Regions from separate parts of the Homo sapiens genome. Here all the other regions are linked to region 1. Evidence: fine-mapped expression QTL. A gene starts in region 1. Each other region holds a variant in brackets. All regions are shown on one strand. Distances are from middle to middle.

Region 1 (8,185 bases):
AAGAAAATAAAGACTTCAGGTCTAAAACCACAAGAAACTCAATTCCTTTAAAGCCGTGAAAATGCTCAGAAGAGGGTTGTTTCTTGGTCATGCCTCTAGATGGGACCCAGCAGCCTATACCTTGATTTCAGCCTGTGAAGACTCGAGCAGAGGACCCAACTAAAATGTGCCAGACTCCTTACCCATGAAAACTGTGAAATAACAAACTTGTGTGGTTTTAGGCCACTAAGTTTTTTAGTGATACACAGCAATAGAAAACTGATGGTCTTATAAAGCTGTATGCATGCATATCCTTTTACTCAACAATTCCATTTCTAGGATTCCCTGTAGAAGGCCATATATGTGTTTGCCAAAATACGTAGACTTTAATATCCACAAAAGCTATATTTATAATAGCTAAAACCTGAAAACAAAGCAAGTGAGTGAGAAAAGGACTTAGGGATACTGGTAATATTTTATTTCTTGATTTGGGTGCTGGTTACACATGTGTGCTCAGTTTGTGAAAATTCCCTAAGCTGTGTTCTTTCCTAAATTATACTTTAATAAAAGTGAAGCGACCAGAAATTTATTAATTTTTTACTACCTGGCAGCATAATGATTATTAGGTTGTTTTCAAAATTAAAAAATTCTCACACATTATAAAAATGGTCACATGATTTTACTTGTGTAATCATTTCAGCATCTGTCCTCTGTGGATAAAACATAAAACACACCATAATACAATGAAACCCCTAGGATAATATCAGGTTCTTTTTAAACCCTAACTCTCACTTGATTTTTGGTTAATCTTCAACAGGTTGCTTCAATAAATAATTTTTGTTTTCTGTTTCAAATCAATTAAAATTAGTAGCATTTTGAGAATTTTAAGGCACTCTTTGGAATAATGCTTTTGTCATTACTGTAAACTCATTCACTCTCCTAGACTTAAGTATCTTTTCTGATAGACATAGGTCTTTGGGCCAGGGCCAGGTCATGATAAAATAGAAAGCTTTAATCTCCATAACCTTTTCAGAGGTAAAGTTATAGGTGCTTTTATTTCATTTTAGAGAGAAAACAAATGTTTGTTCATGGTCTTATAAGAATCAATCAAATAATTGACAAACAATTAAATATTCATATACAGGCCACCATGCTAGATATGGAGACTATATAAAGATATAGTATGTCATTTCTCCTCTTGGAAGATTTATAGTCTACCTGAAGACATAAATACACGTACCCATTAGCTAATGACATGTTCATGTGTTAATAGAAAATAAATGATAAATATAATAAAAGTAAAAAGAAAAGGGAAAATAGCAGAGCTCTAAAATTGTGTCTCAAGGGAAGAGTTCTTGGCAGTCAGGGAAGGCTTCCTGGAGGCAGCATGATGTAGAAAAGCAATTATTTTTCAGTTAAGCAAATTTGGTTTTAAGTCTGAGTTCTTTTACTTCTCAGATATAAGCAGATACTTAACTTCTCAAGGCCTTAAGGTTTTCATCTGAGAATTACAGCTGATGCCAGTAATTTCTCTCATAGATTTGTGAGCTTAGAATGAGATAATTTAATAAGAAAGCATGTTCTTCTAGCCTCCATTGCTGACCTTTCATATGGATGAATAAATAACCACTGAGAATCTTTTGTGTCTGACACTGAGCCTCGGAGCAGGGAGCAGTAGGGAGTTGGGAAGCATGCTAAGCATCAGAGCAAGGAAGGAGAAGGACATAAGGGCCTCTAAGATGCACAATAACAAATGTTGGCAAAAGTACAAAACAGTATGATGAAAGCAAGATAGGACGGTGTCTGGGAAACCTGGGATAATAAATACAGACAAGGAAGTTTCCTTCAAGGCTGGCAAAACAGTAATGTGCTGGTTACAGGGAGGAAATGAGAAATATAGGAGGTATCATCCCTGAATATTTACCTTTTAAGTAGAAATACAACAACTGAACCCATATTTACTTATATACCTGAAATAATGAGGAAAAGTGATGGCATTTATTAGCTTATGTAGTGCAGTGTTTGCCTATCAGTCGCATAAAAATTTGGAGGAGGGAAAGCTCACTGTGGTCTGTAGCATCAGGAAAGGTTTGAATTTAGGTCTTGAAGAATGGACAAGACATGGATCCAAAAGGAGGTTTATTCTAGGCAGATGTTGCACCAGGCAGTCCCTGTTACTTAAACGTGTAAAAGGGGAAAAAAAATCACTGGATTTGGTTGTGGGGTACTACCTGAGAGGTTATGGAGAAGTAAGGAGAGAGGTCTCTCAGATGGGAACTGCAGGTTTCAGGTTGTGATGCAAAATCAGTGTGCTCCTCTCCAAGAAAGAATGAAGGACAAAGAGGCCTAGTTATCTGATCTCTGATCCTAAGGGCACATTTTCAAAGGGGGCAGCAAAGAGAAGAGAAAACCACTGAGAACAATGGTTTTCAGAAACCTATGGCTCCCTCCCACTCCCCCGCACCCATGAAAAGGTGTGGGGGAGGGGGAGGGAGCCACAGGTTTCTGCAGCAAGATCACACTCAAGAATTAAAATCCCTTTTCAACTTATCTCAATGCCCCACATCCCCTGAAAGCACCTAGCTTGCTTGGGTGGGTACTAAGGAGTAAAGAGCATGGGTTCACTTCTGAAAGATCTGGATTGAAGCCCTTGCCTGTTTTTATCTCGCACCCTTTTCTGAACCAATTTCCTCAACGGGGCCATAGGCTCAATAATGATAGTAGCCTCCTCAGAGATGTTGAGAAGATTAAGTAAAAATCTATGTAAGGACTCCAGCACGTAAGCTTCCGTATAACTAATAATAATCACTATTATATTTTATAATGGCGTTTGGGTCCTGGGTCTTGCCAAGTTTGGGGTGGGGGGGAGTGAAGAAGGAAGGTCGGCTTCTTTATTGTGTTGGTGTCTCTCAAAACAGCCGGCAGGCCACGGGCCAAAACCACAGCGGGGTGCTCCCTCCGCCGGCGCCTTCTTTCCCCTGCTCCACCCACGCTTTCCAGAGCAACAAGTTCCTTTCCGCAAGACCCGCCCGCGCGCCACCGGCGGACCCAGAGCCTCTTCCCAGACCTCTGTCAAACTCGTCGCCAGACCCTTCTGGGGTCGAAATTCCGGTACTGCCTACGCCCTTAGGAGGAGGGAGAGGCCCCCACACCTGGAGGAGCCCTGGCGGTGGCTGGGAGAGAGGCGGGAGGCTTGGGAAGTCAGGACAGAAGAGACTAATAAGAGCTTCGGTCTGCGCGGCCCTTCAAGGCAAAACCAATAACCAAAAGCACCCACCGCTCATCTCACTCCTCTCTCTTCCTGGGATCAGGAGCGAGATGGAGCCTAAAATCTCAGGGACCTCCACCCAGCCCTCTGGTAGCCACATCTCTGTCCTTTGGGTTCCCCTCGCCCCACCTTCTCTCTGCACCCACACTCCACCCCAGCCTGCGCCAGGTCCCCTAAGGACACTGGAGAACCCTGATACATCTTTTGCAGGAGAGACACGCAGGTCAGCCACAGCCCCCACCCAGCGCCCTTCTCTCTGTCCTCCCAGGATGAGTACCCTGGAGTCTCCAAAGGAGATCCAAGGTGTCCAAAGCTGGGAGGCTCACCTATCTGCTCAAACTGTCGAACTCTGGCAACTTCTTGGAATGGGGATCCCCACGCTCTAGTGGGAAAGCCAGGCTGGCCGCCCACGCATCAGGAGAGGACACCTCGACTTCTCCGTAGGGAATCCCCCTCAAAATCCACCTCTCCAGCTCCTGTAGCCGGGAGTTGAGAACTAGGGAGCCAACCAGAAGTGCGCTCCAGGGGTGGGCGGTCGTGGGCGGGGGTGAGGGCGCAGAAGTTCCGCCCCGATTTTAGAGACCAGTTTCTTTCCAAATCTAGAGTCAGGAAGCCGTTGTTCCCGGAGAGGAGCAGGGACCGAAGTCCCTGGGAGGGAAGTCCTCCCGGCGCGGGGTGGGAGAAACACCGAGGTGAATTGCAGTGTCCAAACGTCCAGCCTCGTCTGTAGGAAACTATTCTTTCTCCGGGGGATGGGGGTGGGGGAGACTTCCCTGGCCAAGTAGCCAACGCCAGGCTTAGCTGTTCAGGGCTTCATCCCTCCATCCCCAGGCAGCCTCGAGAACTTGGTACCTCGGACAGCATCCCCGGAGCATGGCATCCTGTGAAAGGTGTTATCCTATTTTCGCCATCAAGTCAAAGAGCAGTAAATTATTTTGATGACCTTACTAGTACAGATGAAGGACATTTTAATTACATAACCGGTGAAAGATCACCGGAGGCAATATCGTGTTAAAGAGCCCATGGCAGAATATCTGCATCGCATGAGAAAGAGAGAAAACTTGCAAATCTGCAATGAGATTGCGCAGGGCTGCCCCCCCGTCCCCCCGTTTTGAAACAACATGCGAAATGCATGGGAGAGCTTACCTTTCGGACTCCAAAGCCGTGTTCTGCTGCAACTTGGCGAGCTTTGTCCTCTCCCCCTTTATGCAACTCCACAAGAAAATGATTCGTGAAGACCGGTCGCTCAGCAGATGCAAAAACCATGACACAGAAGAGGAACCCGGCGGCCGCCTTCCACTGGGAGACACAACCACCCTTCATCCTTCTTTGGGAGTGAAAAGTGGTGCTAGGAGGCGCGCAGGCTGGCGGAGCAGGGGACTCGGAGGGAGGGTGCAAATAAAGAATTCTTATATATAGTTTTTAAAAAAATCTTTGTATAGAGAAAGAGACTGAACAGGGTCTTGGAAAGCAGCGAATCAGTGTGTGTTCTCCAGCATCTGGCTGGAGGGGAAGCCGTGCAGTCAGGCGGCCCGGCGCGCGGGCAGGGGTGCGAATGTGGGGAGCTGTGTGTACCGGAGAGAAAGAGCGAGTGTAGGTCTGTGCTTGATGCTAAATCTGCATTTTCAGCTCCTCCTCAGCTCCAATTCCCTAGGGGCTGGGGGAGAGCACCAGCTCGGGTGACGTGAGTCCGCCAGCGGCCAATGAGGGCGGGGGAAGCGGCGGGCCCCGCCCTGGGCCGCCCCGGGCCCGCCCCCGCCCACCCCCGGCCCGGCCCGGCCCGGCCGCCTCCGCCTTCTGGGGGCGCAGCGCAGCGCAGCGCAGCGCAGCGAGCCCGCGCCCCCGCCCCTTTCAGCACCGGAGAGCTCCCCCATCTCAGCCTGGCCCGCCGCGCGCCCAGGAAAATCCCCCCAGCTGTAATCAGGCCAGCGGCGGCGGAGTGATGTCATTGTTTGTGGGAATCTGTAGGCTCTGGGAAGGGAATTACGGTGTGTGCCGCTCTCAGAGGCCCCGAGGGGAGCAGGGGCGCCGGCCTCTGTGCCTCTTCCTGCTTGTTTCCCGCTGCAAAAACACCTCTCTCTCTCTCTCTCTCTCTTTCTCTCTCTCTCAAACACACACACACACACCCAAGGCATACTTGCCTCCCCTTATCCGAATAACAAAGCAAATATTAACCCTCCTCCCACCACTTTGGGCAAATCCCCGGGGAGGTTTGCTCTCCTTGGCACCAGGAGGGTTGGGGAAAGCACCTTCTAGGGGTGATCCATGGGGGGCGAGAGTGCAAGGACGAGCCCTTGTTTTTTGTAGGCTCCAGGCAGGTCCGGAGCGAAGCGGCTGGGAAGCCCAGCAGGAGACCCGGCTCGCCCCACCCGCGATGGTGACTGGAGGAGGCTCCTCTAGGAGTCCTGGCTGCACCTCCAAGATCTGCCTTCAGGAGAGACGCGGCCGGGGTGGACACGGCGGGAGGTGCATTCTCAGACCTGGGGACGTTCCACTGCACAAGGACAGCGAGGGTGCTAGTTGGGGAACGCATAGCCACCGATCCCAGGCGCCGGGCCAAGTCGCCCGCTGAACGTCTTCTACTGGAGGCGAATTCGGGCGCAGCGACGGGGGGCAGGGGCAACTAAGTTATCCGGTTAAGAAACGTGCACTCGCACTGGACTCTGCTAACTGCTGACGACGGACTCCGCTTCTTGCCTGAGAGGGAGGAAGCACGAACGTTCTGTATGTAACGAAATGAGGACGACTGTTTCAAAGCTACTCAAATATTGTTGTGTTAAAGAGTATTTACACTGATCTCATTGTATCATTTAGCTTCAAAGCTCAAAATTCTGCTTTACTTAGATAAGAGGTAAGAGATCTTTTCTTAGGGGCTTAAGTGCATGCAATTCAGAGAGAGAGGAAGAGACTATTTATACCATCGACACGTTACACACACATTCTCATGTATACACATATTCCTCTCTTTTTATTTTAGCTTGAAGTCCAAATCTACACAAGTCAGAACCTATGCAAGAAAAGCACCATCGGTAGAAATGAATACACTTTGAATGCCATGGACCACCCTGTCTTCAGAGCATGTCTGTTTGCTGACATAGTTGGCTCCCTCATAGCCCTTTAAAAAATTGTCACGTAAAAATGTGGGCGTTGCTGAAGGTTTTTATTAAAACATTAGAAGTCTATGTGACATTATTTATTATTGTTATTTGAATTCCTCTAAGAAAATTAAGCTATCTGTTAGGACTTAGGGCCATGGTGGAGGCAAGGTTTCTGGAAAAGTATTAACACGGTGAAAGTATTAATAAAGGGAAACAGATCAACTCTGGGCCCCTCAGCTCACTACTGCTCAGAGGCTCATTTCTGCCTTTGTTCCCCCTTTCTATTACTCTATTGTTTAACAGCTTACCCCCTCATAGTCCATCCGTTTGATTATAACACAAGGTTTTCATGTTTCACCGTGTTAGTCAGTATGGTCTCTATCTCCTGACCTTGTGATCCACCCGCCTTGGCCTCCCAAAGTGCTGGGATTACAGGCGTGAGCCACTGCGCCTGGCCACTTCATTTCTTAAATAGTTTCCAAATATGAAATGCTGGTAAATGTTGAATCTCATATAGCTACATTTTAAATAACTAAAACTGTGTAAAATTGGCCAGAAATGATATAAAACCTGAATGACTAATTAAAATAAGTCCTCTTTAGTGGTTTACATAAAATACAGCTCATCATAATATTGTCAGGACAGAATAGCAAATGGAAAGATAATTTTTTTGGTTATTCAAATACTAAATTTTCAATACACAACAATGTAGTAAGCAAGTGGAAGAGGAAATGTATTTATCCCTTGGATATCTATTGATACATTGTTATTTGAAATGCTAATACACACCCATGTGTGCACACAAATTGCTCTTTTAGACAACTATTTCTCAAACTCCTTTTTCCAATAACAATAGTCAAGGTGGACAGTAGAGAGAATGGCAGCAGCACATTTTGAGGATAGACCTAGAAGCCTGTTGCCAGGGACCCTATTGCAGGCTCTGCTAGTACTAGGTATGTATACCACTTGGCTGTGGGCCAACATATTGCACCTCTCAAAGTCTCTATCTTTCTATCTGTGAAAAGAGACTGTTGGATTAGATACCTCAGAGCCAAAGTCTATAATTTCAAAAGAGTTGTGAAAACATACGCTGTAATGTAGGAAGCATCATCAATAGTTTGAGAAATGCTGAGGACCACAATACTATTTAATAACATATTGTGGCCAACAGGCATACTTATTTTTGTGTAACCTCCCCCAAATGGTCTCATATTTATCAGTTTTGTGTACTTGAAAAAATAATAACTGACACAAACAGATTGACAGCACGAGATATAAAAATCACCAATACCTGGAGCTTCTTTTCATTTATTTACTTTTGTATCTGTAACAATGACGTCGGGTGTTTGGTTCTGGCTCAGATGTGCCACAGGCCCCCAGAGTCTCTTTGAAGATGTTGTCCTGCAAAACAAGACTAGAACTCTCCCATTTTATGGCTTAATACTAGAAATCAAGAGACCTTGGGTGATTTTTTAAAAAACCAAAACCACCTGAGGCATGATTGGGATACTCACATTTAGATGTACTTCTAAAAGGAGAACTTTGGATTCATAGAGCATCATGCCAAGGAAAACCTACCACTGGGGGTACAGAGCAAGCCAGAAGCAGCCGTAGGAGAGTCCCCCAAACCTTTGAATATTCTTTGGACTACTGGAGAAAGATCTAATTTTTCTGTTGATTTCTCTTCAATTGTGTGGGATGTGTAATCTGGAGAGAAATAGGGTATATACCACTGAAAATCACAATTTAAAATACAGCCTTGTTAAAAATCAGGTTGGGCTTTGCCATTTTTGCTGCATTCATTGCAAACATTTTAAATGCAGTAATGGTACATTAATCA
Region 2 (8,185 bases), 180 kb after region 1:
GTCACAAACTTAGTCAAAGGGCAGGGCCCTGGAGCAATGGCAGAAAAACAAACAAGGACATCAGGGTTAGGCAGTTTTATCAACCAAATCTTCCAGGTGTCAGACTGAGGCAGAAGGGTCAGACACGTATATAAGGTCTAAACAAGGGCGAGCATCTGGAAGTTCTGAGAGCAGCCTGGATTCCAAGGAGGAAGACATAAAAGACTAAACTCCAGTGCAACCCTGCATTCCTTATCATCCTCTTTTGTGTTTCCTGCAGGGGACCTCTTTGGCTCACATTGGCTCCCAGGTGTGTGTCTAGAGCCCTAAGACATCACAGAGAACAGAGGTGCACCCTGCTCATAGTTGCGACTGGGACAGAGGTGCCTACAGCAGGAGAGAGAGAGAGCCTTTCCCTAGTAGACATGGGAAGTTTAGGGAATCTTCTAAGGAAAAGTTCCCTACCAAACAAACGTTTCCTTAAAAATAAAAGGGGCCAGGGGCCAGCTTAGACATTGGTGTGTGTGTCTGTATGTTCTCGTGCACATGTGTAAGAGAGGAGACATTGGCCAGGCACGGTGGCTCACGCCTGCGATACCAGCACTTTGGGAGGCTGAGGTGGGCGGATCACGAGGTCATGAGATCGAGACCATCCTGGCTAACATGGTGAAACCCCGTCTCTACTAAAAATTCAAAAAAATTAGCATGGCGTGGTGGTTGGCGCCTGTAGTCCCAGCTACTCGGGAGGCTGAGGCGGGAGAATGGCGTGAACCTGGGAGGCAGAGCTTGCAGCGCCTCTGCACTCCAGCCTGGGCGACAGAGCGAGACTCCATCTCAAAAAAAAAAAAAAAAAAAGAGAGAGAGGAGGCTGTTCTATTGCTGTTTAACAAATTACTACAAATTCAGTGGCTTAAAACAAGACCCATTTATGATTTCACAATTTCCATGGGTCAGGAGTCCAGGCACAGCTTAGCTGAATCCGCCAGTTAGGTCTCAAAAAACTGCAGTGTCAGTCAAGACTGCCATGTGTAGGATCTTCTTCCAAGATCATTTAAGTTAACTGAATTCAGTTCCTTTTGCCTATAGAACTTATGGCAGATTTCATCTTATTTAAGGCCAGCAAAAGCAGGTCTCCTGATTTCCTGTCTCTGACCTCTAACCTTGCTTTTAAGAGATCAGCTGATGAAATCTGGTTTATCCTGGATGATTTTCCTTTGATTAACCCAAAGTCAATTGATTAGTGACCTTAGTTATATATTCTAAATTTCTCCACATTTGCCATAGAATATATCTATTTATAGGAGTAATATTTTACCATACTCACAGGTTCTGCTCACACTCAAGGCTGGGGAGATTATACAAGTTGTTTACACCAGGAATCAGGAATATTGGAGGCTATCTTAGAATTCTGCCTACCATGCGAGAAGAACAGAAAAAAAACCCCACAAAATTATTAACTTCCTAATAAAGAGAATTGTTGAGTTCAAAGGGCTGTATTTAAATATAATTGACATCTGGATCATAACGTTGTCATGTGACATTGTGATGTCTGCTCCGGATATAGTATAAAACATGAAATGGGCCATTCCCCTTCAACAGGGACTCAAATACACATGGATGCTGACTACAGTGAGTGTTTTATTCAGATCCACATAATCATGGAGAAGGGTCAGTTAGAGTTAGAATTTTATTTACTGCTTTGGAAAATGCACAAGGAGAATCTTACTTGTAAATCCTGACCTGTAGATGACTGGGAGAACCTTGAAAATAATTGTCAAGACCATGGGTGGATCCTTTCAATGAGAAGAAAAAGAGCTGTAACTCCCACAGTACAGATGAAGTAAGACAAGTGAGGCTGGATCTCATCTTGAACGTAGAACTGGTGGCTCCCAAATTCCTAATAACCAGCCATGAAAGCTTATAGATCTGACCATAATATGTTTTATTCAGGTTACTGTCTTTATCAGTAGCTCACATTTTCCTATTAACTGCATTTTCTTAATCTCTAGGAAACTCATTGCTCTAATTTATAAAATAATTAGTATATAACTTGATTTAATCATTTCACAATGTATACATATATGAAAACATCATACTCTATACTGTAAATATATACAACTTTTGTCAGCTATACCTTAATAAAGCTGAGGACAATAAAAATTAATGAATAAATTGTTTTTAAAAAGAGTTGTTTCACTTGTTTTGGAACATTATGGTAAAATTGTGGGCCTTGTTATCTGGACTTCATCAACAGATCACCTTCAACTGGAGAAAAAACTGAGAAAAAAGACTATAAGAGATGCTGTAGTTTTTGAAAATTGGAGGGATATGTAAAAACTCATTCTCTTCTCTTCGAATAGAAATTTTGTATTTGTCAGTGACAGAGACCACACGGAGGGTCTTATTACAATTGTAGTTAGTAGTTTTACCTGCAGCTTCATAGAAAGAGGGATCCAGGATAAATATAGGAGACTGTCACTCAGTTTCTAAAATGCTTTCTCTATTCGGATTACAGCAAATAGCCCAAAGCCAGAGCATGCTATGATTAAATTACTTTTCCAGTAGGAAGGTTATCCATGCCTAGTGATTCTCTAACTGGCATCTCAGTGCAAAATTCCACTGTGCTCAAAGTTCCTGGTTCTAGGGGCTTTCCTGGAGCCAAGGAGATATGTTTTTAGGAAAAACAAAACCAGCTTGTTATATTGTCTTTTGTATTTATGATAACAAACACATACTCACTATGGCTCATTTATGAGTGAACGAAAAGGTGTGGAGAAAGACCACCTCCGTGCTGAGCACCATAACTTTTTTGCTCATACATTTGACAGATACTTGGGGAGCATCTTCCCTGCCTGTCTGTTGCCATGCCTTGCTCTGGGTGCTGAGATACAACAGTGAAGAGTCCCCTGTGGTTGGGTTGCCGCTAGGGCTTGGGTATTGTGAGAGGTCAGACAGGTTTGTCTCCTGTCACGTCCAGGCCTTGGAGGTTCTTTTAGCCTGGTGGTGACACCAATGTGCACTGCATGTTCCTGTTGGTGTCCTAATTTCGGGCACAGCTTTCCAACAGGGACAGGCCTCCTCCTCCCAGCTTCCTACTATGATGCTATCAGCTCACATTTCCTCAGCATGCTTGCTTGTCACATCCAGGAAAGTGTTGGTTTCCATAGTAACAGTGATCATATATGCAGAAGATTTGGCTTTCTGACTTATTAGTGACTCTTTTTCCTTCATGTGATCTATTCCTACAGTCCCAGGGAAATTTAGCTGCAATACCTAAGAAAATTTACTAACATGTTAACAAAAATTATCTGGGTTAGTAGTGATTCCTTTTTGCATTTATCTGTATTTTTTTCAAATTTTATGCACTGATGATTTATCTCTTCTGTCATTAGAAAAAAATTAAACTTGTCAGGCAGTCACATAAAAAGCATCAAATACAATGGGCTAATTCTCTGCAGTTTTCTAAGGACACGTGCATTCAACTCAAGAGAGTGGCATGGGCATAGCAAATATGATTCTTTTATGACTATTTGCTCATGAAAGCTGTACCGTCTACCCTTCAAAACAAGGCAAATCATGTAATGATTAATATAATGATTAATGGTTTATGTACAGATGTTATTTTATTTGTAAAACATGTGTTTGAGATTCTGGCACTCAATAACATTCTAGGCCTCTGGGGGAAGAAAAAGGAAAGAAATTAGAAGGCTTTCTTGGATTCCCTTTGTTAATTTTAAAATAAACCTATCTTTGCAGGAGAAAAATCTCCCACCTTTCATAAGATGTTGGTACTATTTGCTCATTACTAGTTTACTTTCTAAAAACAAATGTAACACAAAGTGAGAGAAGTAACTTCAAACCCTTAGAAATGACCAGGCCCAATGTACCTTCCATAGCAACTGGTGTGGTAAGGCATACCAGTGTACTGGAAACCTTCATGTGTACTGCCAAAAATTTTAAATTATAATTATAGCAATGCCACTGATGGAAAGTTAAGATCAACTGAGTTTTTGACAAGGTATGGAGTAGCATCAGCCCAACACTAGAGATAAATGAAGCTTTTACTAAAATACCACAACATGCTAAAAATTTGCTTGTGAATACAGACGAGAGTCTCTTGTGACAATCAAAAGTTCAACACAGTACTAGAAGAAAAGTGAAGAGAGTAACATACAAACTGTGTCTAACTTTTATAGAGCTTTTGGGATATTACTGTGCCACAGTGATGATAGTACTATAATTATCACCGATGTGTTTAAAGCTGTTTTGAGTCTTTTAATCTCTTCTGGGACTACCAAAAATTCTAGTTTTCAAAGTTTGCCATGAATACACAATTACATGTACATAACCTGGACACACACAGGTATTATAATTAAAAATAAACGCTTGTATTATAAAAATCCCTCTTCAGCCTCCCCCGAAGGCAGTTACCCAATGTGTGCTTAACTTTGTCCATGACTGGAAGCTCACTATCTTACATGGAAGCTCTCTCGACTTTGAAAAAAAGGTTAATTTTAAATATAGTTTTGTTAAGTTGATGTGAAGTCCACCTCCCCGCAATATCTACCCACTTGTCCTAGTTCTGACCTCAGGAATAAGAGTGGGTAAGTGTAATTCCTTTCCTGTAGGACAGACTCTGAAATATTTGAAGAGCAACATTGTGTTCTCCCCAAGTGTTCTCTTTATGCACTACAACGCGAATGTTTG[C/T]CTTAGAAAACAAGACTGTTTAAACATGTTTTGATCTAAGAATCATTTACGCAAAGTCATTTCACTGTGCAAGAGGATCTATAATAGTTTCACATTTCAAGTATTTTTTTGTTTAACTCTACCAAATCTGTCTACATCTAGAAATACAACTAGTACAGCCAGTGTGAGATTAAGCCATGCTTCTACTGATTCTGGTGTGTCCTATCTGAGGATGCCAGAAGTTGTTCTCTGCAACACTGACCATCCCTGACAACGCCATTACATTAACACCTTTATAAAAACCCATATTCAGGACTCTATCTGCTGAATTGATCCTTGGGAAGGAATTTTGCTCCTTTCTAGGGGTGTGTTTCTCAAAACATTTTGCTGTGCGGTAACCAGATATGATGAAAGATAAATTACCCAAAAGTTCAAGAGATGAAATTTCTGTCCTTGAATAAGGCCAGAATAGTTCAGAACTTTTGAATGTGCTCTCTCCTCCAACCCAACAGAAATTGACTATGGAGTCTTCTAATAAATCAACGGGTTTTCTTAAAAATCAATTGTCTTGAGGACTGCTGAATATGGATAATGGGGAAAGGTGTTTTTACTCTTCTGCTATTGGGTGTTCTGACATTTTCAAAATAATTTTTTAATGGAAATCTCTGCATCTCCAAATCCCTGACAAGAGAGAAAAATGACATTAATGATATTAAAGAAGCCTGCTTCTTTACTCTTGTCAATCTGTAAAGGTTTTCTTTTTTATAATGTAAATTTCATGAGGCAAAAGTGAACATCACATAAGTCTGCAAGTGTTGTTTGGTAGTACTGAGCTGCTCATGCTATAAAGCAAGGCTTGGTTGAAGAAAAATACAGCAGAGCCAAAGTAAGAAGAGGGTTGAGCAGGAGGAGAGCTTGAGATCAAATGTATGTGGCTAGAAAAAAAAAACTGCTTCCAGGGAGTTGCTGAAGAAAAAGTTAATTTAATATGTGAGAATCAAAGGAATATACTGAGGTTGAAAACCAATGTTGAGTGTAGTTGTAGAAATAAGGACAGATTGGGCAGAAGCAAAGATTAAGAGGTTAGAGTTCTCAAACTGTTTGTGGTAATGCTTGAATCCAATCTATATGACCAGTAGGCAGCACGTGTCATGTGCAAATTGCCATGTGAGTTGTACTCCTGAACCAGTTTATGCAGAGCTCAACAAGATGAGTTTGGTCATCATGCACTTGGATATCATGTTGTGGTAGCTAGTTTCCAAAGACAACCCTGATGAAGAACACTTTCTGGTATTCCTATCCCTATATGTCCCCTTCTTCCTCTTACATCTGGGCTGTGCCTGTGGGTGTGAGCAACAGAATGTGGTAGAAGTGATGCTGTGTGACTTCCAGGCTAGTTCACCAGAAGTCTTGCAGTTCCCAGCCCTGGTCTCTTGCTGTGTGTTCTCTAGGAGAAGCCACCTACCAGTTAAGAGGTAGGACTATTCTGAGACCACCACGGTGAGAGGAAGCCCAACCTATCCAAATGGAGAGGCTGCATGGAGACACATGCCCACCCAGCCTCCAGCTGTTCTAGCCATTCAGAAGAGGTGCCCAGTATGTGAATGAAGGAACCATTCTGGAGACCTTGTTCAACTGAGTCGTTAGTTAACTCCAGCTCCAGCTGCCTTCTAAAAGCAAACACAAGACAGACATCACATGAGAAATGCCCAGCTGAGCCCAATCAACCCACATAACCATGAAATGTGATAATACATTTTTGTTTTAGACCACTTTGTTTTATTTTGGATGTTTGTTAAACAGCAATTGTTAACCAGAACACATGGCAATGGCAAATTTCCATAAAAATGTCAAAACACTCTCAGTTTTTGTACTTCTCTCACTGTGTGCCGTTAATAAGCACTGACTTCCACTTTGAGTGAGATCAGCTTATCTGCTTATACAGAATCCAGGCAAGACTTAGAAAAGGAGAGAGAGATGAGCGTTGCCTTTACCTGAGCTTTCTTTGAGCCTCTCTGTACTGAGCCTTGCATGTTATAGAAATGACTAGAATCTGCAGGGGGTATCCTCTATACTATCAACTCAAAGGGGCTTCCTTTCTTTGCTTTCTGAAGTTTCACTCTAAGATTTGTTACTTGGAGAGGACTTCAGGACAAATTTGGCCTGTTTTAGTTTCTTTTTAGTGGTTTGAGTGACCAAGAAGTATCATTTTAAACTCAGCTAAGATGAAGGGGATTTTGATTAGGAAAACTGTGCCTGGCACGTCAACTCTTTTGGGAGAACACAGGCACAGGCTTATAGTTTCAAGAATGACCTCAGGTTTCCCTATGATGTATTTTAACCATTACAACTAAGATCTAATCCTTACAAATTCCCTAGGGTCGGAGACTGACCTTCTTCTGAGTTGGTAGGGATTTCAGGATTCTAGATCTCATCCATTTAGCATTAAGTTACCTTGTTGGTGCTCCTATTCACCCTGTATTTCAGGTCGGGAAACTGGACTCTTACGTTGTTTTCCAAGTACATTCTTTGAGCAATCCTCCATTCAAAGTTTTTAAAGTAAGTTCTGAGTTCAAACCCTTTTATGGGAGTTGTATGATCTTACACATGCAATCAAACCCTTCCATGGCTCACTTTCTTTGCCTTATAGAGGTCAATAGAATATCTTTCCCTGGCTTTTGGGAAGGTATAACAAGTTTGTGTACGAAAGTCGTTAGAGTATTCAGCATACGGTAACAGCTTAAATGGTAGCTGCGGTAGTGGTAGCAGTATTCCTGAGAGTATGGTGATTCTGAACACTTAACCATTTCAGAAACAGGAATCCTGCTTCTGAGCCAAGCCTTGTAGGTAGTCTTTTGCAGGTATCAGACTTTCCCCTCTCAGGAAATGAGCCAGTGACCTCTTTCTGGACCTCTAAGGAGGGTACCAACTCATTGTCTTCTCCTGGAACCTACACTGATTATGTGCTGTGAGCCTAGGGGTCATTTTCACCTATTCTGCCACTGATAAGGCTCTAAATTTAACACCAAGAAAATGTTCTCCAACAAAAATTTTTCAAAGGAAACTGTTTTTTGTGATCTTGTTTTAAAATCCTGAGCAGGTAGCTCCTTAATCCACAAGAATAAAGACAGGAATTAATCTATGGTTCCATTGATGTAAAGGAAGATTTTCATTTTAATAAAAAGCACATTGAAACAAGGCTTATAGCTTGATCAGTGGACCAAGTTTTGCATTTGTTTTTAATGCCTATTGAGTTTCATTGCGTTGCTGGCACCTAATGTGTTCTGCCCCATCACTCCATTTTTCCCTTTTCCATGTGGCCAATCTTTGATGCATCCTATTTCCACATATCCAATAGTTTAAAATAAAGGGGAAAATTGAAATCATTTAGAATCTCACTATAGTATTGTTTTTGTCATAATCTTTTGAACACTTATCCTCAAATCATGTCCCTTTGCTTTCAAAATGTGGAAACATGTGTTTTATAAAAGTATATTCCTTGGTTAATCAATAGCAAATG
Region 3 (8,185 bases), 420 kb after region 1:
CAGCTGTGAAGGATGCCCAATTTTAATCTTCTGGATGGTATAACTAGCTCAAAATGATCACGGGTGAGCCTCATAAAGAACTTATCCTGAAGGCACATACACCTTTAACAAGGGCCAAAAAAATAACCCACAACCTATCTTACATTTTCCAGGCCACTGACAATACTAACAGTGGTGAATTTCCACTCCAGCATCAGCAAGTCCCTGACATCGAGAGTTTCACAGCAAGGTAAATCTAATTAAATTAGCTCTAGAAGACACCTCTGAATAACCAGCGGAATAAAAGTACAGAGCCCTACATCTTAATCACTGAAACAGGTATTTGTGGTTCACAATATTTGGTAGATGAATCACTCCGTTTTTTTTTCCTTAAAACAAATTAAGCTGAGCACCCAGCTTCTGCTCACCAAAGACAATGAGATATCCAATATCAGACCTTAACTGAGGCTCCCCCGCCCCCTCTATTAGATCATAAAAAACCCAGAGCTGATTTATATGACATCAAGAAAATAAGAAAGGAGTCTGGCTCAGGAAAACCACAAGGCCATTCCTCACAAGTGTCTTCCCCACTGACCACAGGCTGGACTGCTGAGGACCCACTGCTTCCAGAAACCACAGTAATTAATGTCCAGCCATCAAAGGCATCCACACTGACACCCTCTTCTCTTCTTGGGTCCTGCCATCCCAGGAGAGCCTGAGGGCCCAGAGTTCAGGTTTTCTGTGTGTTCTAAAGTACTTTTATTTCATCCTAAAGATGAGGAGGCCATCTTCTCTCTCTGAGATGATTCAGCTGAACTTCCAAGTGAAACCAAATTCCCTATTAAACAGAATATACTCAATATTAAAAGGCTGCCTTCTTTATGAAATAATTTTGTAATCCTCAAACCAATTGCGTATAAGGAAGAAGTTCTATTGGATGTGAGAATGCTCAGGTTAGACAGTTGGAAGAATATTAGGAAAGCAGTGGCTGGAAGACACAGCCATCAGAAAAGGCAGCAGAATTTCCTCTGGAAATTCTATCGAACATTAGGAATAACTGGGTGGGGTTGTCTTTTAATGAGGTCCTGACCCAGAGATGAATACAGATACATTGCATTTCTGAGATTTCTGTGGCTCCTTCTTTCGTTCCCTTCCGCATGGAATTGCCACATCATGAACATCCCACTTCTTAAATGTCTCTCACATACATTACTTCATGTCTGTTATTATTGCTGGTATTGCTGGGTTATTTCTTCTTATCTCTTATCCATCCGATTTTCAAGAACTTCCAAACTATTCTTTCTGTTACTAATCACCAACCTCCAGCATAACCAGTTCTTAGACAATTGATCCTTACTTCACCAGTATAAATTTCTTCAAGGGAAATGTTGACTTTATCAGTCTGCTGTTCACAAACTTTCAGTGACTCCTTTAACCAGCTGAATTAAATGCAAATTTCTGAGCTCTGTGTTTAGGATTTCTCTCTCTCTCCACCCCAATACTGTGTGTGTGTACACATGCACACATGCATGCATTTGATATATGACACCTTACTTACACACATGCACATGCATGCACGTGTGTGCACACACACAATGCAAGACCAAAGAGTCATGCAATAAAATCTGAATGTTAAAACTATTTGCAAAAAAAAAAAAGAAAAAAGCTTTTTCAAAGCCCCAGTGGTACTATGCAAAAAATAACAATGTGTCAAATATGATTCTGGACACAAGTAGCCCGTAGTCTACTGTGGTTAAGGAAACAGCTTGCCATGACCAATCAAAGGGAGAATTGATTCACCTCAGCTCTTGAGCTTTTAGTGGTCTGCATCTCAAATTCTATTTGTCTGTTTTAAATGGGCCCTGATCTCCGTGATCCATTGTCATCCTCCACTGCTCTGCCAGGAGCTGGAAAGATGAGCAGCCCGGCTTTGTGCCAGCTCTTTTGGCTGAGTGAGAGTGGTGGGATAGAATGCTGGAGAAGACCAGCTTCAGAGGCCACAGTTCCCAGCTTCGAATTACATGTAAAATTGTTTCCAAAGGATGCTTTCTTTTGAATATGAATTTCTAAAAGCTGACTTTTAAAATCATTTCTAAGTACCAAAAGAATTAATTTGTCACTCTAAATTTGTATTTGCTTTGGTTTCTCTTGCATTTCATCTTTTCTTCGTATATCTACTACCTCCGTCTTGCTCTATTTCTGCCCCTTAGATGTATCTGCCTGCAGCAAATGTACTTAGAAATGTATTTCCACAGACAGAGCCTGCAGGAAACTCAACAAAGTGAGTCGAGAAATGAGAGAAAACCTATATTGATCTCCCCTCCCCATCAGTGTCTCTCATTTGGATTCTGTTGCAACGTTGTGTTATTGCCTGGGAATGACAAGGTTTGCTGAGCAAAGAATTCTGAAATTAGTTCAAAGGCATTTCTACTTCTCTTCCTATTTTACAGAATGAAACCATAAATAAATTGAGCCCCATATTCAAACTAATCAATGAACACCAACCATCTCTTTAATGTTTCTGCTGTAAACTTTTAAAAGTAATAAAAAGACAAAACCACTTCCTGAAATGAGATGGAGGGAAAAGGGCAAGAGGAATATTGTCATATAGCTAATGAGGTAGTCCCCTCGATCCAAAACCCAACTGCCGAAATCAGATAGATTCTGTGGAGGAGGTGTTGCAGGTGAAGATTGGTAAATCCAAGAACAGAAGCAGGATGGCTCACAGCATCCATGGCCACCAGGAACATCTTTACTTAGAGTCAGTAGAACTCTCCAAGAGTAAGAGCTGCATTCTTGGGGATGAAGACTTGATCTGCCCACTCATCCGTCTCACTGTGCCTAAGGCAAACCCCTTGCCTGCATGTTTCATGGATCTAGCAAATTAATTTCTTCCTCTGCCTTCTTCCCTCTTCCTCTCAGAAAGCAACCAACCTCAGGGGTGGAGGGAACTAATATCTCCTGAGCACCTACACTGCAGGGCCAGGAACTAGCCCAGGATTCTTCTTGAATATTATTTCAGTCTGTCTCCATAATAACTCTGGGAGATGGAAGTGCTGTCCTATGGCACTGCAAGGAAATGGGGCTCAAGAGATTTATTTCATTGCCCAGGGTCACCCAGAAGGGAAGTGGCAGGCTAGGATGTGAACACACATCTTCGACTGGGTTTCCTGAAAGGCAGTTCCTGAGGCAAGCACTTGGGAACAAGTAGGTTTATTTGGAAGGTGATTCCAGGAAGCAGGAGGGAAGAGAAAGAGGAGAGAATGAGGCAGGGAGGGTGGAAATGGCCACTGAAGCAAGATTAATGAGTGATGACTGCTATGGGCAACAGAGTCTCAAGCCAGCTCTGTGGAAGGGTGTGGACTGCACCCAGAACTGGAAGGCTGGGGAATATCGCCACAAACCCTATGGGTTGGCAGCTGCTGCCCCAAGGGGTGTCATTTCACCCTCTGGGGGTGCAGGGGAAAATCCCCACATGCTGAAAAATGTCAGCATGCTGAGGACTGACTGCCACAGGCACTGGCAAACTCAGGTGGTGTTACAGAATCGGCAGGCACGGATGCTTGCTGTGCCATAACAGCCCAATA[C/T]AGCAGGGATGGCAGCAGAGAAAGAGTTCAGTGATTGCAGGGAGGCCAGGCCAGGGGACGGGAGGGGGCCCTCAAACCCATCTCCCCATGGAGGTCTTGGCTGGGGTTTTTAAGGGGATTATGGGGGCAAGGGCCTAGAAAACTGGGGTTGCTGTTTGGTTGTGATAACAGGAGTGAAATAATCAGGATGTGGAAACTACATTCTTTGGTGAGTCAGCTCCTCGTGGGGTCCTTCAGATTCATTGGCGTCAGTAGTTTCACGAGTTTGCAGGACCTGAAAGAATATCTCAAATAGAAAACTTAACCTTTTGTTGTTATCTATAGAGCAGTTAAGAGGAGCGAAAATCTTTTTTTTTTTTCCCAGGCTGGAGTGCAATGGCATGATGTCAGCTCACTGCAAGCTCCACCTCCGGGGTTCACGCCATTCTCCTGCCTCAGCTTCCCCAGTGCTGGGACTACAGGTGCCCGCCACCACGTCCGGCTAATTTTTGTATTTTTAATAGAGACAGGTTTCACCATGTTAGTCAGGATGGTCTCTATCTCCTGACCTCGTGATCTGCCCGCCTTGGCCTCCCAAAGTGCTGGGATTACAGGCGTGAGCCACCGCCCCCGGCAAGAGGAGCTAAAATCTTATGATAGGGTTTACATGATTCTAGGACAACAGGAAAACAACTACGAGGAAGCCGGGCAGAAGGCAAGCTGACCTACTGATTAGTGCTGAGTGTGCTGCAAGCTTGGTTTATCGTTGTTCCCTTCTTCCTTGATTGATTTTATAAAGCTTACAGGGATGCTTTCAGCAGGACCAGGGGTGCGGGTTAAAACACCCTGGTCATCTGCCACATCAGCTGTGCCTCCAGTGCCCACGGGGTCTGCCCCAAGCTTGTCTCCCACAGTCCTGTCGCCTCCTGATCACACACCAGTGGTGCTTCTTGCTCCACCCTGACTACAGCAAATGCTCCTTCCAAGATGGTCACTTGCAACTCAAACCACCAGAACATCGGAATGTCAGGCTCTGTGTGAGAGAGTTTGAAGGTTTAAAGGGAGTGGTTCTCAAAGAGGCATCCCACACCAGTAACATCAGCATTACCGGAACGTGTCAGACATGCAGATTCTCAGGCTCCTGCTGCATCAAAGCGCTGGGAGTGGAGAACTGTTATCTGAAGTTTAACAAGCTCTGAAGGTGATTCTGATGCACACTTAAGTTTGAGAACTACTGAGAGCAGTCTCTGGTGTTTCCCATAGAAATTTGCACTTAAAGATAGCAACTTAGAAACTTTTCTGAAAATTTAAATGGTTTTAATAGAAAGAGGAAGGGAGGAAGGAAAGAAGGAAGGAAGGAAGGGAGGGAGGGAACAAGGAAAGAAAAGGAACTCATTTGACCATTAAATATAAATCTTGTGTTTGTCATATTTTTGTAGAAAAGAGGTTCTTAACCTGCGGAATCACAAACCTCTCCTGCCACCATGGGTTTCTGAACAGAATTAAGAGAATTCATGAGGGAGAAGCACATTTTTATTTTCACTAAACTCTACTGAAATGTAACATTTTGTTCAATTTGAGTGTAGGTTGATAAACCACAGCAGTACTGGCCATTCCCATGATTTTGTCACCAATAAAACCACAGATATATGCAGATGCATTAGAGTTGTTGCAAATATCTAAAATATTACTTAACTCCTCACTACCTCAATCTTATTTAATGTATTAATTTAAAAAACAAAAAACACATGTATAAGAAAGACAAGGGAAAGATGGGGAGGATAAGAGGGGAGAAGCAGGGAGGGAAGGCAATCCACAGCATAAAGGGAGGAAATACTATGTATTCAGAGTAGTTCCTTTAAGAGAGCTGAACGCAAAAGCAAATGAGAAGTGGGAGGGCCAGGAGGAGGAGAGGGAGGGGGAGCAAGATTCAGCCTAAAGGAATAGGCTCAAGGAAAATCACATTCCTGTGCAAGTAGGTACTGAACATGGACACATACATCTCAGTCAACAATGGTGTGTTAAGTGCTTTCTCTGTTCCAGGCAGGATGCTAAGACCTAGGGAGAAAATGGTAAAACTGGACCCTTTTCTCAAACTCACTTTAAGCTCATCAAACCAGAACAAATATTTTCATCAAGCAAATATGGATCAACCATCTATATGCAAGTACTACTCATGATTATTAAAGATGAGGTCCTGGGACTCACAAAGTATACACTCTAGTTGATCGGTCAAGGCATAAAACAATTCAAAATTACAGGGGGTATCGATGAGCCAGGAAGATGTTAACAAGTTCCTAATCAGCATCCAGACCAGAGCTGTGACAGGGCTGGGGAATGTCGAAGTCAGCCTAGGGAGGTGCCACTTAACCTAGGGGGGCAGTAGGACCTCAAGTTTGGAAAAAGGTGATTAGACCAGCACGGCTGAAACAAAAGGGACATGTAGGACCGTGGAAGTGCTTGCTTAGAAGATTAAACCAGAGCCAAGACTGATGAGGTTCCAACGGCCAGGCTAAATCTAAAGTCCCATTAGCCACAAAGATTAATTTAGAATTAGTGTTTCTTTTCATACAAGGATGCCATTGATACAGAATCAAAAGCGGTTAAACTGTTTTCAATTCCCCTACATGACAAATACTTAATGTAACTAAAAAAATAATACTGCCAGTGGTAGTGTTCATCAGTCATACATATATATAATACATATAAATAGTAAATAATATTAAATAAAATATTAAAATAATAGTAATATATTTTATACAAATATTTTATATATATATATATTTAGAGACAGAGTCTCACTCTGTGGCCCAGGCTGGAATGCAGTGGCAGAATCATAGCTAACTGCAGCCTCGACCTCCTGGGCTCAAGCAATCCTCCCACCTCAGCCTTCCTAGCAGTTAAGACTACAGGCTCATGCCACCATGCACAGATAATTTTTTTTTTTTTGTAGAAACAGGGTCTTGCTATGTTGCCCAAACTGGTCTTGAATTCCTGACCTCGAGCGATCCTCTCACCTCAGTCTCCCAAACTGCTGGACTACAGGCATAAGCCACCGCGCTCGGCTGTTTCTATTCTTTATTCTTCCTTCTTTCCCCACATTATCTGATTGTCTGATAAAGTCAGCTTCAGAAGGTCTGGTGACCATCTATTTAGTTGCAAGCGCCATTCCTCGGTCAGTTGCGAGCTTGGGGCGCCCTCTAGAGGACTAATGAAATACGCCGGCTTGGGGCAGCTTTAAATTTGGGCTGCACAGAGGAATAATCCGGGGAGCTTTAAAAACTCCTGCTGCTGGGCCCCACACTTACAGATGGAAATTTAATGGTTCTGCAGTGTGGCTTGGGCATCAGAGTTTTCTAAAGATCACCCAGATTTATAATAATTCTTGGAATCAGAGAGTGTTGGCCCTCCAAATTTGTTGTTCTTTTTTCAGTGTTCTGGCTGTTCCAGGTCTTTGGCATCGCCATATAATATTAGAATTAGCATATCAATTTCCAAAAGAAAATGCCTGCTGAAGGCTGGATCAGTAAGTCTTTTGCCCTCCCTTCTGCAGCCTTCTGCCTGCTGGTGCCAAGCTGCAGAAGGGAGGACTTACCGATCCAGGAAGATGAGGAGAGATGAGAGAAGAGATGAGAGCCAAGGGAGGATGGATAAAAACAGCCAGCAAAGCAAAAGGCGGCTGGGACTAGGTGAGGGGAGGGACGACAAAGGAAAATAGTATTGCTTGCCATTCCATTGCAAAATTGATTCTATTGCTGTCTTCTGAACTCCCCTGAAATGACCCCACAAAGTGCACAATGCTCATCAATGCTTTCAGCCAGTGGACTTCAGGCAAAATTCAAAGGGGGTGTTGTTTCACGCATCCTAGGGCAAAGCAGAGACTGGAAGTATAAGAAGCCTGGAGACTGAGAAGGCCCTGTGAACATAAGCCTCCCAAAATTCTTAGCCAATCTTTTAGATTGGGTCTTGGACATTGATGAGCCATGGCATTGATGGCCAAGCTAGTTTACCTAGATCTCTGGAAGGCAGGATAGAAGACAATTTGATGAATGACCCATACCAGGGCATTGAACTTTCCTCTCCCATACACACATGAGATTCCTCTTCTGCAGATGAAGAAAGAGCCACCACCCTTTCTCGGCTGGCAGTGGGTAGGAGGGGAGTGAGTGTGAGTTAGCCAGAGTAAGGCTGGAGATATGAAATCAGCAGAAGGCACAGGGATTCCCTTGAAGAAGGCAGAGAAATGAAAATCCAGAGGAAAAATTAGTGAGCCCAAATCAGCACAGCAAAAAGGATTCACATGAAGAACAGGAAACAAAGAAAGAAAAATCAGAAAAGAATATGACTGTGCTCCAGAACTGATATCAGTTGGTAGTGATATCATTACATTTCATATTTCACAGCAACTGTAAATTAGAAGGGATTGATTATTTTCAAGTGCGGGGACATCAATATGGGAGGGAAATATACACATTCTAAGGCATTGCTAATGGTTCTGGACAATTAGGAACAGAGACTTCACAATATTTAGCCGCTAATAATCATAATTATATTCCAGGTGGTTGGGCACTACGTTTTGGAGATGACGCAATTTCTCAGAACAGATTTCCCAGAGAACAAGCTACATAAATAATATTATA

Direction of the effects. Alleles are on the strand shown, and positions count from the first base shown. SD is a standard deviation of normalised expression in the study named. Not every link is listed here.
In carriers of allele C in region 2, the expression in thyroid of the gene that starts at base 4,836 in region 1 tends to be lower than with T alone (small effect, 0.39 SD a copy in GTEx).

Evidence for each region. PIP is the estimated chance that this variant, and not a neighbour inherited with it, causes the effect.
Region 2: its variant is fine-mapped to the expression of PCSK2 in thyroid (GTEx, PIP above 0.99).
Region 3: its variant is fine-mapped to the expression of PCSK2 in lung (TOPMed, PIP above 0.99).

Annotation. Positions count from the first base shown.
Region 1 is chr20:17,223,691-17,231,875 of GRCh38, reverse strand. It overlaps PCSK2 (proprotein convertase subtilisin/kexin type 2), which reads right to left and starts at 4,836. Exons shown (of 12, transcript NM_002594.5): 1 at 4,394-4,836. The coding sequence starts at 4,570.
Region 2 is chr20:17,039,964-17,048,148 of GRCh38, reverse strand. No RefSeq gene overlaps it. Among named protein-coding and RNA genes, the nearest start is that of PCSK2, 180 kb to the left of the region's middle. The variant C/T (reference allele first, on the strand shown) is at 4,687.
Region 3 is chr20:16,802,697-16,810,881 of GRCh38, reverse strand. No RefSeq gene overlaps it. Among named protein-coding and RNA genes, the nearest start is that of OTOR, 58 kb to the right of the region's middle. The variant C/T (reference allele first, on the strand shown) is at 3,567.